Homo sapiens: one gene and its partner. The protein of the gene in region 2 binds, or shares a complex with, the protein of the main gene of each other region. Each region holds a gene or a part of one and is shown on either strand. Other genes may lie near its edges.

Region 1 (7,732 bases), on a different chromosome or scaffold from region 2:
CACTTACCAGCACACAACTGCAGGTACAAATCTGCATTATGGAAAGATAACTCTGGCAGGTGTCATGTAATTCTTTACAGGTGTGTATATTTGTGAATACATGAGAATCACCCAAGGAACTTTTTGCATTCTATATTTGCCTGCCTCCACTCAGCTAAGGACCACTAGATGAGAAGCACTTGTAAAGAAGCTGTTTGCAGGGATGCAGGCGAGAGTGAAGGTACCGACCACAAGAAAGCATAGGAGAGTTTTGAGAGATATCTAGTGCTGGGATTACAGGCGTGAGCCACCGTGCCCGGCCTGGAAATAATGTGGGTTTTTTTTTTTCTTTTCTTTTTTGAGACAGAGTCTCACTCTGTCACCCAGGTTGGAGCACAGTGGCACGACCTCGGCTCACTGCAACGTCCGCCTCCCAGGTTCAAGCAATTCTCCTGTCTCAGCCTCCCGAGTAGCTGGGCCTATAGGCACCCGCTACCACGCCCGGCTAATTTTTGTATTTTTAGTAGAGATGGGGTTTCACCATATTGGTCAGGCTGGTCTTGAACTCCTGACCTCAGGTGATCTGCCCGCCTCGGCCTCCCAAAGTGCTGGGATTACAGGCATAAGCCACTGCGCCCGGCTGGAAATATGTTTTAAACTTTGGATTTAGGGTCTGGGAGGGGACCCCCCCCGCCCCCGCCCCGACTATAAGATGCAACCCTCTTCCCTTAGAATCTGAACTGTCCCTGTGGGAGTGTCAACTTCCCTCTCTCAAGACTCACCCGAACCTCGGCCTCCCGGGGCCTCCCATTAAGGTCGCACTTGGACCCATTGCCATAGGTCTGGCTGTGGTAGCGTTTAAGACGATGCTGCTTGGAGGCCTGGAGAAGACATGAGGCAGGAATGGGGGACATGAGAAAGATAGCAAAGAGGAAGGATGGCACTGCGTCCCCAAAGAGACAAAAGAATGGCCTGTGCCCCCAGGCCCCAGGAAACTTTGTCCTAATGGCCACCAAGCCCCAAGAAACAGATCAGCTAATCTTGACCCTCCCCTTCTTGTCAGGGCTCTCAGCCGGTGGCCAGAACCCTTTCTTCCTGAATCCCACACTCTTGCCACCTTGGCTGTTTCATCATCCCAGTCGAAGGCTGATTGGTAGTAGCCGAGATAGAGGACTTCACCTTTGATCTCTGAATCTGCAAGGGAAGCCACAGTGAAGCACTGTTACTCTTAAGAGGAGGAGGAGGAGGAGGGAACTGGGGAACTTCCATGATATGACACTAAGGGCTTAAGGAAAATATAGGAGTGAGTTACCTTCCATGTGGTATTGCTGGATGTGGCGTCCATAACAGAATTCATATGTCCACCAGTCCTTTGTCTGACAATTAAAAAATAAACAATCAGGGGGATGGAGTGCAGACATCTTTTCTTGGAACCAGAGTCTCCTGGCTCCAAGACACATAACCTCTCATCTACTTACACACTCAATTCTCTTCCCTTCACTTCCACTCTCAATTCTCCAGACTTTCAGTAAGGAGGGAGGGCTGCTTTCCTTCTGTGACTTGGAGAGATATCTCTAAAGTCTGTTTTCCACTTGTGGTCTTTCCATTCCTCCCTTTTAAAAGATTTTTTAAATCCTTATTTGCCCTCCATAAAGATAAGAAATTATGGTATCCCTGAAGCAATTATATTAGGGAAACATAGAAGAACCCAAAATTAAATATTAATTGAACTTCTTGAACATTCCTGGCACTGTTCTGGCCACTGGGAATACAACTGTGAACAAGATTAATTCTTTGACCTCATGGAGTTTACACTCTAATGCGGGGAATCAGACCGAAAATAAACAAACTGATTCAGTAAATATGATTTCAGATCATGAAAAGTGCTACGATGAAAATAAAACAGGATACTGGAGCAGAGTGATAGGGCAGGGGGTGACTTTAGCAAGTAGGCTTAAGGAAGTACTCCTCCTACCCCACGCAGACCCTCAATCTTGCTTTAGCCCTTTTCTGAGATCTTCTATCCTAACCTGCTCCTACGTTCAGCAAAGTGTCATCAGTGGTTGCAGGATTCTTTGCTTCTTTCCTGTCCGTGTAATCTGTCTACTCCTCCAGTGGTCTTCTTAACCACTACAGGTCCCCTAGATCCTGCCTCATTCAGTGGACTCCAGTTCTTGGATGAACTGCTAGTTTCCAAGCCCTCATTCTATCTAACCCAGTCCCTTTCACCTTCAGCAAGCAGGGAGCATCTCTCATTGGGCTCAACAACTCAGGGATCCCAGGCCCTTGGTAAGCAGGTGTTTCCTCCTCCCTTTCACGCTGGAAGTGAATAGCTCCAGCTGGCAGGCGACACTCATAGCGCTGTTTGTACTTAGAGGAGACAATCACCACGTCCGAAGATTGGCTCTGGGAAAGAAGGGAGGGTCGGGGGGCAAGGAAGCAAAGAAAGGCTGGGATCAGGGAGAACAACGAAATCCCTCTTCAAACCCTGGGGAAGAGATCAGTCGAAGACAGAATAAGCCATAAGCCCTCCAGCTGTATTTAGTGGGTGAGAGGAGAGGGCGCTCCCATTTCTCCACGGGGGCGGAGTCCGGGTGTTTCGATCATAAACTGAGACCTGAAGGTTGACAGCGGGAAGCCCCACCTCTCCCAATTCCTGGCCCCCAGAGAATTGGTCTCAGTCTGCGACCCCCAGGGGTCACCGTAAAAGCAATACCTACTCTTCCCGATTCCCCGTAGGCTCCAGCCCCAGACTCCGGAGCTGCCCTTCTTCCTCTATCTCTTACCCGCTTCCTCTTCTGCCCAGACCCTCGCCCCTTATACGCCTCTCACCTGCCCTCCCATGACAGGCAACGGCAGGATCTCGATCCCATAACGCATCTCACTCAGCTCCTCCAGGTTCAGGCTCCCGACACCGCCGGTCAGACTTGCGGGTAACAGGAGTCCCAGAAGCAGCAGTCCTAACAAACTGGACAGCAGCGTTTCCGCCGCCATCTTTCGTTCCCCTTCTTATGCAGAGAATCTGTTTCCGCCCTAAGCCAGGCAGCGGCCTCAACACGCCCATCGGCGCCACATGATTTTATTGGCTGTACGTTCTATCCCTCCCACGTACCCTATTCCTATTTGTAAACGTGGCTCCAAGGTCCTGGGGAGGTGGATCACGACGATTAGAAATATCAATCGCTGTCCGTGATTGGTCAGAGACCAGCCAATCATCGACAAGATCAAACCCCTCCTCGTTCCCCAATTTCAGAGGCGTGGTCTATGCGCTTGGTCCTTTTAAGTTTGCCCTCTGTCTTCGCCCAGCTGTCATGCGCATCTCATTGCTTTTTCAGACGTCTCTTGCATTATATCCTGCCCACCGCCGGGCGGAGTATTGAGGCAGATAGGTAGCGTGCGCAGTGCCGGTGAAAGTTATTAAATGCTTGTTGCAAAACAAACAATTATTATACGGACGCTTACCTCTTTTCATATATACATATTGCTTTGAGGCAATCAGAAAATTTGTGTCAAAACCTTCCTATACGATCCTGCAGTTGACCTCCAGTAAAATGACCTCCAGTAAAAATCCTAGAGAAATAATGCGGGCAGCCAGACGTGGTGGCACGCACCTGTGGTATCAGCTACTCCGGAGGCTGAGGCAGGAGGATCTCCTGAGCCCAGGAGTTCAAGTGCAGCCTGCGCAACACAGCGAAACCCCGTCTCAAATAAGTACGTACATACATACATACATACATACATACATACATACATACATACATGCATACATGGGCTTCCAGTTAAGGTGAAATTATGTATTACTCTCCAGGCCGTAAGAAAGGGAAAGGAGACAACAACAGCAACATTTTGGAAGCTGGAAATCAAACAGAAGAATGTTAACTGGTTTAGCAAACTTGAGAATATTTATTACGAAACAAAGGTAAACAAGAGGCTGATTATACCTTTGGAAAACCCTCTCTGGGGAATCTCACCAGCCAAAACGAAAAATCCCAAAGATACCCTTATCAGAGTTCTCTTAATGATATAGATAACTAGAATGAATTCCACATGTAACACTTTGGCCTACGTGCCCCAGCCCTCATTCCACTTTCCAATCAGCTTTTTAGTGTTCTTACTCTTCAAAATAAATAGCCAGAGATCATTAGACATTTAAGGAAGGACTTTAATATACAAGTAAGAAACAAACAAGAAGGGAAAAGCAAATGAGAGGAAACATAAATTGCAAGGGAGGGGAAAAAACACTAAAAATAAAAAATTTAAAAATAGGCCGGGCACGGTGGCTTACGCCTGTAATCCCAAAACTGTGGGAGTCCGAGACGGGCGGATCACTTGAGGTCAGGAGCTCAAGACCAGCCTGGCTAACGTGGTGAAACCCCGTATCTACTAAAAATACGAAAATTAGCTGGGCATGGTGGCACGCGCCTATAGTTCCAGCTACTCAGGAGGCTGAGGCAGAAGAATTGATTGAACCTGGGAGGCGGAAGTTGCAGTGAGCTGAGATTGCGGCACTGCATTCCAGCCTGGGCCACAGAGCTAGACTCCGTCTGAAACAACAAAGCATTTAAAAATAATCCATCATCAGACTTCTCAAAGAGATATTATAGAGCATTCATAAAATAACAACAGGAAACTACTTGAGAGTAACTACTATTCGGATAAGCAAAAAGAGCTCTTGGAAACTAAAACCATGTTACAGAAATAAAAATTCTATAAAAAGGCTGGGGGATAAAGTTGAAGAAGATCAAATTTGTTCTGCTTTAGGAGAAAACATAAAAATAAAGGATCAGTCCAGAAGGTCTGGACTAAATAAGAGTTCTAAATTAGAGTTCCAGAAAGAGAACAGAGAATCAGAAGAGATCATCAAAAAAACTATTTAAAAGGACTATCCCAAACTGAAGAACAGTCTCCAAATTGAACAGGCACCCTAAGTATCCAGAACAACAAATCAAACCCACACCAAGACACATCATTATAGAATCTCAGAGTACTGGACACAGAGAAAAAAATTCTAAAAGCTTCCAGAGAGAAAGAACAAGTTGCATATACAGACAAAAAAAATCAGAACATGTGACTTCATGTTGTTGCTTTGTTAATACATTTTTTAAAAATCAGTATAACATTAGGATTAAGAATCAGAACACCATTGCTACCCAAAGCAATCTATAGATTCAATGCAATCCCTATCAAAATACCAATGACATTCTTAACAGAAATAGAAAAAACAACCCTAAGAGACCTAGAATGGAACCACAAAAGACCTAGAATAGCCAAAGCTATCCTGAGCAAAAAGAACAAAACTGGAGGAATCACATTACCTGACTTCAAATTATACTGCAGAGCTATAATAATCAAAACAGCATGGTACTGGCATAAAAACAGACACAGACCAATGGAATGGAATCCAGAATCCAGAAACAAATCCATATATCTGTATTGAACTCATTTTTGACAAAGGTGCCAAGAACAGACACTGGGGGAAAGACAGTTTCTTCAATAAATGATACAGGGAAAACTGGATATCCCTATGCAGAAGAATAAAACTTGACCCCTATCTCTTACCATATATAAAAATCAAATCAAAATGGCTTAAAGACTTAAATCTGGCTGGGCGCAATGGCTCATGCCTGTAATCCCAGCACTTTGGGAGGCCGAGGTGGGTGGATCACGAGGTCAGGAGATTGAGACCATCCTGGCTAACACGGTGAAACCCTGTCGCTACTAAAAATACAAAACATTAGCCAGGTGTGGTGGCAGGCACCTGTAGTCCCAGCTATCCGGGAGGCTGAGGCAGGAGAATGGCATGAACCTGGGAGGCCGAGCTTGCAGTGAGCCGAGATCGCGCCACTGCACTCCAGCCTGGGTGACAGAGCGAGACTCTGTCTCAAAAAAAAAAAAAAAAAAAAAAAAAAAAAAAAGACTTAAATCTATGACCTGAAACTATTAAACTACTACAAGAAAACATTGAGGAGCCTCTCCAGGACATTGGCCTGGGCAAAATTTCTTGAGATACCCCACAAGCACAGGTAACCAAAGCAAAAATGGACAAACAGGATCACATCAAGTTAAAAAGCTTCTGCACAGCAAAGAAAACAACAAAGTGAAGAGACAAGCCACAGAATGGGAGAAAATATTTGCAAACTACTTGTCTGACAAGGGAGTAATAACCAGAATATATAAGGAGCACAAACAAAAGAAAAAAAAATCTAATAATCTGATTTAAAAATGGGCAAAAGATCTGAATAGACATTTCTCAAAAGAAGACATACAAATGGCAAACAAGTGTATGAAAAGGTACTCAACATAATTGATCATCAGAGAAATGCAAATCAAAACTACAATGAGATATCATCTTACCCCAGTTTAAATGGCTTTTATCCAAAAGACAGGCAATAACAAATGTTGGAGAGGATGTGGAGAAAATGGAACCCTCGTACACTGTTGGTGTGAATGTAAATTAGTACAACCACTATGGAGAACAGTTTGGAATTTCTTCAAAAAACTAAAAATAGAGCTACCATACAATCCAGCAATCCCACTGATGGGTATATACCCAAAAGAAAGGAAATCAGTATATCGAAATGATATCTGTACTCCCATTTTTGTTGCAGCACCATTCACAATAGCTAAAATTTGGAAGCAAACTAAGTGTCCATCAACAGATGGATTTAAAAAAATGTAGTACGTATACACATAGGAGTACTTACTATTCAGCCATGAAAAAGAATGAGATCCTGTAACTCGCAACAACGTGGATGAAACTGGAGGTCATTATGTCATATGAAATAAGCCAGGCACAGAAAGACAAACTTAGCATGTTCTCACTTATTTGTGAGAGCTAAAAACCAAAGCAGTTGAACTCACGGAGATAGAGAGTAGAAGGATGGTTACCAAAGGCTGGGAAGAGTAGTGTGGGGTTGAGGAGAAGTGGGGATGGCTAATGGGTATAAAACATAGAAATAATGAAAAAGACCTAGTATGTGATAGCATAACAGGGTGACTATAGTCAATAATAATTTAATTGTACATTTTAAAATAACTAAAAGGGTATAATCGGATTGTTTGTAACACAAAGGATAAATTCTTGAGGGGATGGATACTCCATTTTTCATGATGTGATTATTACTTATTGCATGTCTGTATCAGAGTATCTCATGTACCCCATAAATATATACATATATACACCACTGTGTGCCCACACAAAAATAAAATTTTTAATTGTATTTAATTGATTCCTTATCAGAACAGCATTGGGCTTACAAACTCATCAACATTGGGAGGAATGAGTGTGGTGGCTCACTCCTCTAATCCCAGCACTTTGGGAGGCCAAGATGGGAGGATCACTTGAGCCCAAGAGTTTGAGACCAGCCAGGGCAACATAGGGAGACTGCATCTTTACAAAAAAAAATTTAAAAAAAATAGTAGGGCATGGTAGCGAGTGCCTGTGATCCCAGCTTCTTGGGAGGCTGAGGTGGGAGTATTGCTTGAGCCCAGGAGGTCAAGGCTGCAGTCAGCCATGATCACGCCACTGCACACCAGCCTGGGTGACAGAGTGAGACCCTGTCTCTTAAAAAAGAAAAAATACATTGGGAGCTAGAAAATAATATAAAATATCTTCAAATTTTTTAGGGAAATTATTTCCAACCTATAATTCTATGTTCCACCAAACTATAATGTTTTTTGATTCAACATTATTTTTGTATAAATTTGTGGAATGCAAGTGCAATTTTGTTAGATGCATAGATTGTGCAGTGGT
Region 2 (7,000 bases):
ATTCAAATTACTTGTATAAAACAGTTTATTCTGTGTTTAGGAACTTGTAGGGGTGAAATGCTGACCTGTGTTACTCTTTCTTTCCATGATCAGCGTCCAGAGGACCAGAGGTTAATTTATTCTGGGAAGCTGTTGTTGGATCACCAATGTCTCAGGGACTTGCTTCCAAAGGTACATCACTTACACATTAACTTCTGAATGTTTTTAAGCACTCACCAGGTTAGGTTCAGGTCCTTAAGTACCTTCGTATTACTTTTAGCAGGAAAAACGGCATGTTTTGCATCTGGTGTGCAATGTGAAGAGTCCTTCAAAAATGCCAGAAATCAACGCCAAGGTGTGTCTGCCTCTTCATGATGGTAACAATTTGTATCATTCAGACTTTCAGGGGAGTAATAAAAGAAGTTGGATAAAACGTTTATTGAGAGACTGTATGGTGTTATTACCAAGTAATATTTTGTTTCTTTCCTAGGAATTAGAAACTGTATTATCAACACAAAGTGATGAGTTAATAGTAGCAGATTGTTCCGTTAGTGCTGTAGTAGAAAGGTGGAGTTACATATTGCACTATCTTATGGGATATGATTTGATCTATGGTTACTGTGTATCTAGATTACTGAACTAACACTAATCGGGTTTTTATTGAATTTAGCACATAGCAAGTTTCTTCAAAGGAGTCACTAATTTTTATAAAGAGTACAAAAGTGAATATATTTCCTTTGGAAATTTTCATTGTGATTAGTTGGATAGGAAAAGATCAGAGTTTTTATCAAGTGATCTTTAAAGAATTTTTTTTTTTTAAAAATGGTCTCGCTGTGTGGCCCAGGCTTTTCTCAAACTCCTGAGGGCAAGCGATCCTCCCACCTCAGCCTCCTGAGTAGCTGGGACTACAGGCATGTGCCACTAGACCTGGCTCTAAAGACATATATGACACACGAAACCATTTATTTTTCATTTCACAATGTTTATTCACATATATGGTATTAGTATTCTAATGTAGTGATGCACTCTAAATTTGCATTATATTTCCTAGAACATCTGAACAGAGCATAGGAAATTCCCTATTTTGCCATTATCAGTTCTAACAAAAATCTTAAAAGCACTTTATCATTTCATTTCCCTGCACTGTAATTTTTTTAAATGATCAAAAACAGTATCATACCAAGGCTTACTTATATTGGAATACTATTTTAGAAAGTTGTGGGCTGGGTTGTATTTATAAATCTTGTTGGTCAGATGTCTGCAATGAGTAAATTTAGCACCATTATCAGGAAGCTTTCTCACCAATGACAACTTCATTGGAAGATTTTAATGAAAGTGTAGCATACTCTAGGGAAAAAATATGAATATTTTAGCATCTATGTATTGAAAATTATGTTGAATAAATGTCAGACTATTTTTTACATAACGTTGCTTCTGTTTAATTTTGTCACGTTCAGAGGTGGGGGGTAGGAGATGTAAGCCCTTGACAGCAAAATAATTCCTTTTGCTTGATTTCAGACAGTTGCATCAGCTCCTTTGTTCTGTGTTCATGTTACACTTATTTAGGTGGCTGAATCCACAGAGGAGCCTGCTGGTTCTAATCGGGGACAGTATCCTGAGGATTCCTCAAGTGATGGTTTAAGGCAAAGGGAAGTTCTTCGGAACCTTTCTTCCCCTGGATGGGAAAACATCTCAAGGTGAGTGTTATAATAAAGATCTTGGCTTATGCAACATGAATGTTCCTCGTTTGCATCAATTTAAGAATAAGGTATGTTTACACGTATATAATCAGAACTTTTAAACATACAGAATTTTGCTTTATAAATAGCTTCGCTTTAAAGATCTCTTATATATTTAACTTTTCTTAATACACAGCCTTTTAGTACACACAAATTTAAAAAGTAGGTAATGCATATATTGAAAAAAAAAAGAAAATGTAGGCGTTTTATCCTTCCATTGTGCTGACCGCTTGGTTGCCGTCATGATAGGAAATTAGTGCTGCTGCAGGAGAAAACAGCTGTCGTAAGCATTGTGCAGCTGCTTTGCTGAGTGGCTTTGTGCTTTATTGTAACAATGGGTGACAACAAGGGAGAGACTGTTTAAGAAGTGTCCTTCCAAAGACTTGGGGGTACTAGGAAAATTGGCCAATTTCTTATAACTATTAAAGCTTTTCTTTAGAGCAAAAGTCAGAACTAAATGCTCTGTTATTTGGATTTTTATAGCTCTTGGAATACATTGTTTTTGGGGAAAAATTCATTAACTGCAAGTTGCAATTCTGTAACTCTCCAATTCTCCGTCCCCCTTTTTCTAGTACTTTTTATACACAATATTTTATAAAGCCAGGTGTTTTAGGAATGAGTTTTTCTTCCTTTTCCCCCTTAATGGAACTTTCAAATATACACAACAGTGGGGACTGGATAATTAATCCCCACACCATCACCCAGGCCTAATAAATAACAATCAGAGTTTTACCATAGCTCATCTATTACCCTTTCCCTTTTTTTTAAAAAAAGAGTATTTAAAAGTAATTCCCAGGCATCATGTTATTTCATCCCTATATTCTTCAGTATATAACTATGAAAACCTTTTAGTTATCTTGTATATCTAGAATGCCATTATCAGATCTAACAGAAATCTTAAAAGCACTTTATCATTTTATTTCCATGCACTGTAATTTTCTTAAATGATCAAAAACAGCATCATACCAAAGCTTACTTGTATTGGAATACTATTTTAGAAATACTCTGTGTATGGAATTTAGTTAAAAGATTGTCAGCATATAAATTGGATAATTATTGGATAGAAAATTATTGGTTAGAAAAACTTAAAACTACTTCCCTTATTCTGATTCAACTATTCTTAACTTGAGAATTGAGGCTCATATTTGACTCTCTGAATCTCACCATATTTAAACTTGATTTCCTTTAACAAATATTTATTGAACAGCCAGTACATACAACTTTGCTTAAGGATATGAGTTGACCTGCAGGAATGACCACATAACCAATTTCTGATCTTTGGGCAATTCTATTATGGTTTCAATTTTGTGATGTGCTACTGAAGAAATTGACTGTGTAAGAAGCACAAAGCCAAAGATGACTCGCATACACCTGCCCTGTGAAGTTGAGGGCTGTGTGGCCTGATTAAAGAAGCATGCATTTGGCCGGGCGCGGTGGCTCACACCTGTAATCCCAGCACTTTGGGAGGCCAAGGTGGGCGGATCACGAGGTCAGGAGATTGAGACCATCCTGGCTAACACGGTGAAACCCCGTCTGTACTAAAAGTACAAAAAATTAGCCAGGTGTGGTGGCGTGTGCCCGTAGTCCCAGCTACTGGGGAGGCTGAGGCAGGAGAATGGTGTGAATCCGGGAGGTGGAGCTTGCAGTGAGCCGAGATTGCGCCATTGCACTCCAGGCTGGGCAACAGAGCGAGACTCCATCTCAAAAAAAAAAAAAAAGAAGCATGCATTTGACATCAGACCAGCTCTGAAATCCAGCCCTGCTACTTACTAGCTCAGTGACCTTGTGCAAAGCCCCTGTCTTCCCTGAGCTGTACTTGGGTTCCCCTTGTAAAATCTCCTTCATGAGATTGCTGTGGACCCAGCAGCCTGTACAGGACCCCCGGTGGTCAGTAAGCATGCACAGGTGATACCACATGCACACTTCACTATAGATTCAGATGGAGGATGGAGGAAGAAGTGGATATTGGGAGGATGGGAGAGATTTCCTTCAGGAAAGACTGGGAGAAATGTGGCTTTTGAGCTGCTCTCTAAAAGATGAACAGTGGGTTGAGACCTGCAGTGAGACTCAACAAGTCAAAACTGAGGTGGGATCTACTTAACCCAAAAAGGTTGTTTATATATCTGTGCACTCAGCAAGCAGGTGGCAAGGGCTGTTGTTTTCCTGTGGGATGGGACTGTGGTAGAAGTGCTGTGTCATTTAGTACCTTCTGTGCTTGTGGTACATGGGTGCGTCATACAGTCATTTACCATGTAACTGCCGTAAATTCCATTCTTCTGTCTCTTCGATTTGAATTCTTGATTTTAATTTAAACTTAGTTTTCATTTGTTCATACTCAACCCACTCAAAATGAGTGTTTTTTCAAATCTATGTATAGGCCTGAAGCTGCCCAGCAGGCATTCCAAGGCCTGGGTCCTGGTTTCTCCGGTTACACACCCTATGGGTGGCTTCAGCTTTCCTGGTTCCAGCAGATATATGCACGACAGTACTACATGCAATAGTGAGTCCTTCCCGCCATGCTGGGTGTGGCCAGGGCTCCCGGGAATTGAAGGGAATTTTATCCATGTTACCTGTAAAGTTCAGAATGGAGGGATGAGTGTATTTTCATCAGTCTGCAGAGCCCTGCTCTGTTTGGTCTGTGGGTAGAGTGTAAATGACAGCTGCTACCTGATTTGTGTATTGACACAAGGGTGCTTTTGTCTGATACATAGTTTAGTGACTTTATTTAGAACATGTTACTTTCTTTTCAATTTGTGCTATCTTCAAAGTTTTGTGAGGATTTTAATTTGCTACTGTGCCATAATCTTACAGTGGGCTTGATGTTTAATTTCAGGTGAAATTCACCTTGTGGCTTTTCTTAGAAAAGGCATTTATAGATATAGTTAGTAAGGAAGTTCTTCACTAAATTGAAGAAAAATCAAAGGCATATCTACCTACTTGAAATTCTTAACAGTAAAAGACTGCTGTGTAAATAAGCCACAGACTTCACGGTGCTTTGGTCTCAACAGTATCTGCCTCTGTCGTTTTTATTTTAGTTTAGCAGCCACTGCTGCATCAGGGGCTTTTGTTCCACCACCAAGTGCACAAGAGATACCTGTGGTCTCTGCACCTGCTCCAGCCCCTATTCACAACCAGTTTCCAGCTGAAAACCAGCCTGCCAATCAGAATGCTGCTCCTCAAGTGGTTGTTAATCCTGGAGCCAATCAAAATTTGCGGATGAATGCACAAGGTGGCCCTATTGTGGAAGAAGATGATGAAATAAATCGAGATTGGTTGGATTGGACCTATTCAGCAGCTACATTTTCTGTTTTTCTCAGTATCCTCTACTTCTACTCCTCCCTGAGCAGATTCCTCATGGTCATGGGGGCCACCGTTGTTATGTACCTGTAAGCAGATGGTTTCTCTAATATAAATTACACTACACTGTGTTCACACTAAGCAGATTTTGCTCTTTTTGTTTCTTGTTTTTTTTGAGATGGAGTCTCGCTCTGTCATTCAGGCTGGAGTACAATGGCACAATCACTGCAATCTCCGCTTCCCAGGTTCAAGCGATTCTCCTGCCTCAGCCTCCTGGGTAGTTGGGATTACAGGCGCCCACCACCATGCCTGGCTAATTTTTATATTTCTAGTAGAGACGGGGTTTGGTCATGTTGGCCAGGTGGTCTCGAACTCCTGACCTCAAGTGATCTGCCCACCTTGGCCTCCCAAAGTGCTGGTATTACAGGCGTGAGCCACCACTGCGCCTGGCCAGATTTTGCTCTTTTTTGAGCAGTCTCAGTTACTGTAGAAGGAGATGTGTTTAAATAGTATATCACTCTGTGGCTGGGCGCAGTGGCTCACACCTGTAATCCCAGCAGTTTGGGAGGCCGAGGCAGGAGGATCACATGAGGCCAGGAGTTTGAGACCATCCTGGCCAATATGGTGAAACCCCGTCTCTACTAAAAATACAAAAAATTAGCCGGGTGTGGTGGCACGGGCCTGTAATTTACTTGGGTGGCTAAGGCAGGAGAATTGCTTGAACTGGGGAGGCAGAGGTTGCAGTGAGCCAAGATCGCACCACTGCACTCCAGCCTGGGTGACAGAGCAAGACCCTGTCTTAGAATAAATACATAATAAATAGTATGTATTCTGGCACTTTCGATACAAGGAATTCATGGCTTGGTTGTATGGTCCCAAGAACATATCAATCCTGTGTTAATATAAGAATATTATCTTGTCCTCTAGATAAGCTACCTTACCTTCCAGGCTCACAAACCACAAGTATGTAGCCATACTGAGGCATGGAACAGAAAACTGTATTTGTTTTGAATGAGAACACATTTGCCTTTATCAGACCACAGCTGCCTTCCAGGGTAAAGTCAGGCACTGACTGTTAGCATGGCCCTGAAAGGCAAGGGAACCTTCACATACCTGACATTTGGTTTTAGCTGTGGCCCGAAGCAGTAGTTCTCAACTGGGGGTGGTTTTGTACCCTCTCTCCCCAGGGGACATTTGGCAATGTGTAGATATTTTTGGTTGTCACATCTAGGGGAAGTGGTCCTGCTGGCGTCTAGTTAGTAGAAGCAAGAGTGCTGCTGAATTTTCTACAATGCACAGGACAACTCCCACAGTAAATATTTGGCTCAATATGTCACTAGTGCCAAAGCTGAGAAAGCCTGGCCTAGAGTGATGGGTCTTCGTGGTTGAAACTAAAAGAAGAAATTTTCCTGTATAGTAAAAATGGATTTTTATTTTAGCTTTTAAAAATAAAAAAGGAATAATTAGAATATAATGAACACTCAAATATCCACAATTAGTCATTGTTAATATTTTATTATATTTAAGACTTGGGATTTAATTGGTTTCTTCAAATAAAACGTTTAGTTAATATTTTCTGTAGTCTCTAGAATCATATATTTAAAAGACCAAATGTAGGTTGTCATTATGTTATATATAATTATAGCTTTGTAGGTATATGCATTCTCCCCGCTCTGTTCAGGTTTTCAAGGGTAAGGTTTAGTTCGTCATAAGCATTTATTGAGTGCATACTATGTGCCAGGTGCTGTTTATATGGCTGGGTGTGCAATGATGAATAAAACACAGTCCCTGCCTTCAAGGACCTTACAGACTGGTGAGAATGTCTGGGAGACAGTGTGATCAAATGCCTCTGTAGATGGGTCTTGCAGTGAGCTTATCAGGGTGCTGCTGTGATTAGAGGTGGGGAGCCTTGGATTCTTGAGTAAGTCTCACTGTGACATCAGCTAAGATGGACTTTTATGTGCTTCCTTTGAAGGCATCACGTT

What was found. The genes of interacting proteins can lie anywhere in the genome.
Region 1: HERPUD1 (region 2) and OS9 share a complex: the UniProt entries of both Homo sapiens proteins name them as parts of the HRD1 complex.

What each region holds. Positions count from the first base shown.
Region 1 is NC_000012.12:57,689,403-57,697,134, reverse strand, and holds the start of OS9 (protein OS-9 isoform 1 precursor), read right to left. Parts: upstream 3,004-7,732; 5' UTR 2,974-3,003; coding exon 2,812-2,973; intron 2,386-2,811; coding exon 2,209-2,385; intron 1,356-2,208; coding exon 1,292-1,355; intron 1,174-1,291; coding exon 1,097-1,173; intron 861-1,096; coding exon 762-860; intron 1-761. UniProt on the Homo sapiens protein: Lectin component of the HRD1 complex, which functions in endoplasmic reticulum (ER) quality control and ER-associated degradation (ERAD).
Region 2 is NC_000016.10:56,935,142-56,942,141, forward strand, and holds part of HERPUD1 (homocysteine-responsive endoplasmic reticulum-resident ubiquitin-like domain member 1 protein), read left to right. Parts: intron 1-93; coding exon 94-171; intron 172-259; coding exon 260-334; coding exon of another isoform or gene 335-336; exon of another isoform or gene 337-350; coding exon of another isoform or gene 351-356; intron 357-1,545; coding exon 1,546-1,676; intron 1,677-4,095; coding exon 4,096-4,218; intron 4,219-4,753; coding exon 4,754-5,104; exon of another isoform or gene 5,105-5,260; intron 5,261-5,724; exon of another isoform or gene 5,725-6,990; coding exon 6,991-7,000. UniProt on the Homo sapiens protein: Component of the endoplasmic reticulum quality control (ERQC) system also called ER-associated degradation (ERAD) involved in ubiquitin-dependent degradation of misfolded endoplasmic reticulum proteins.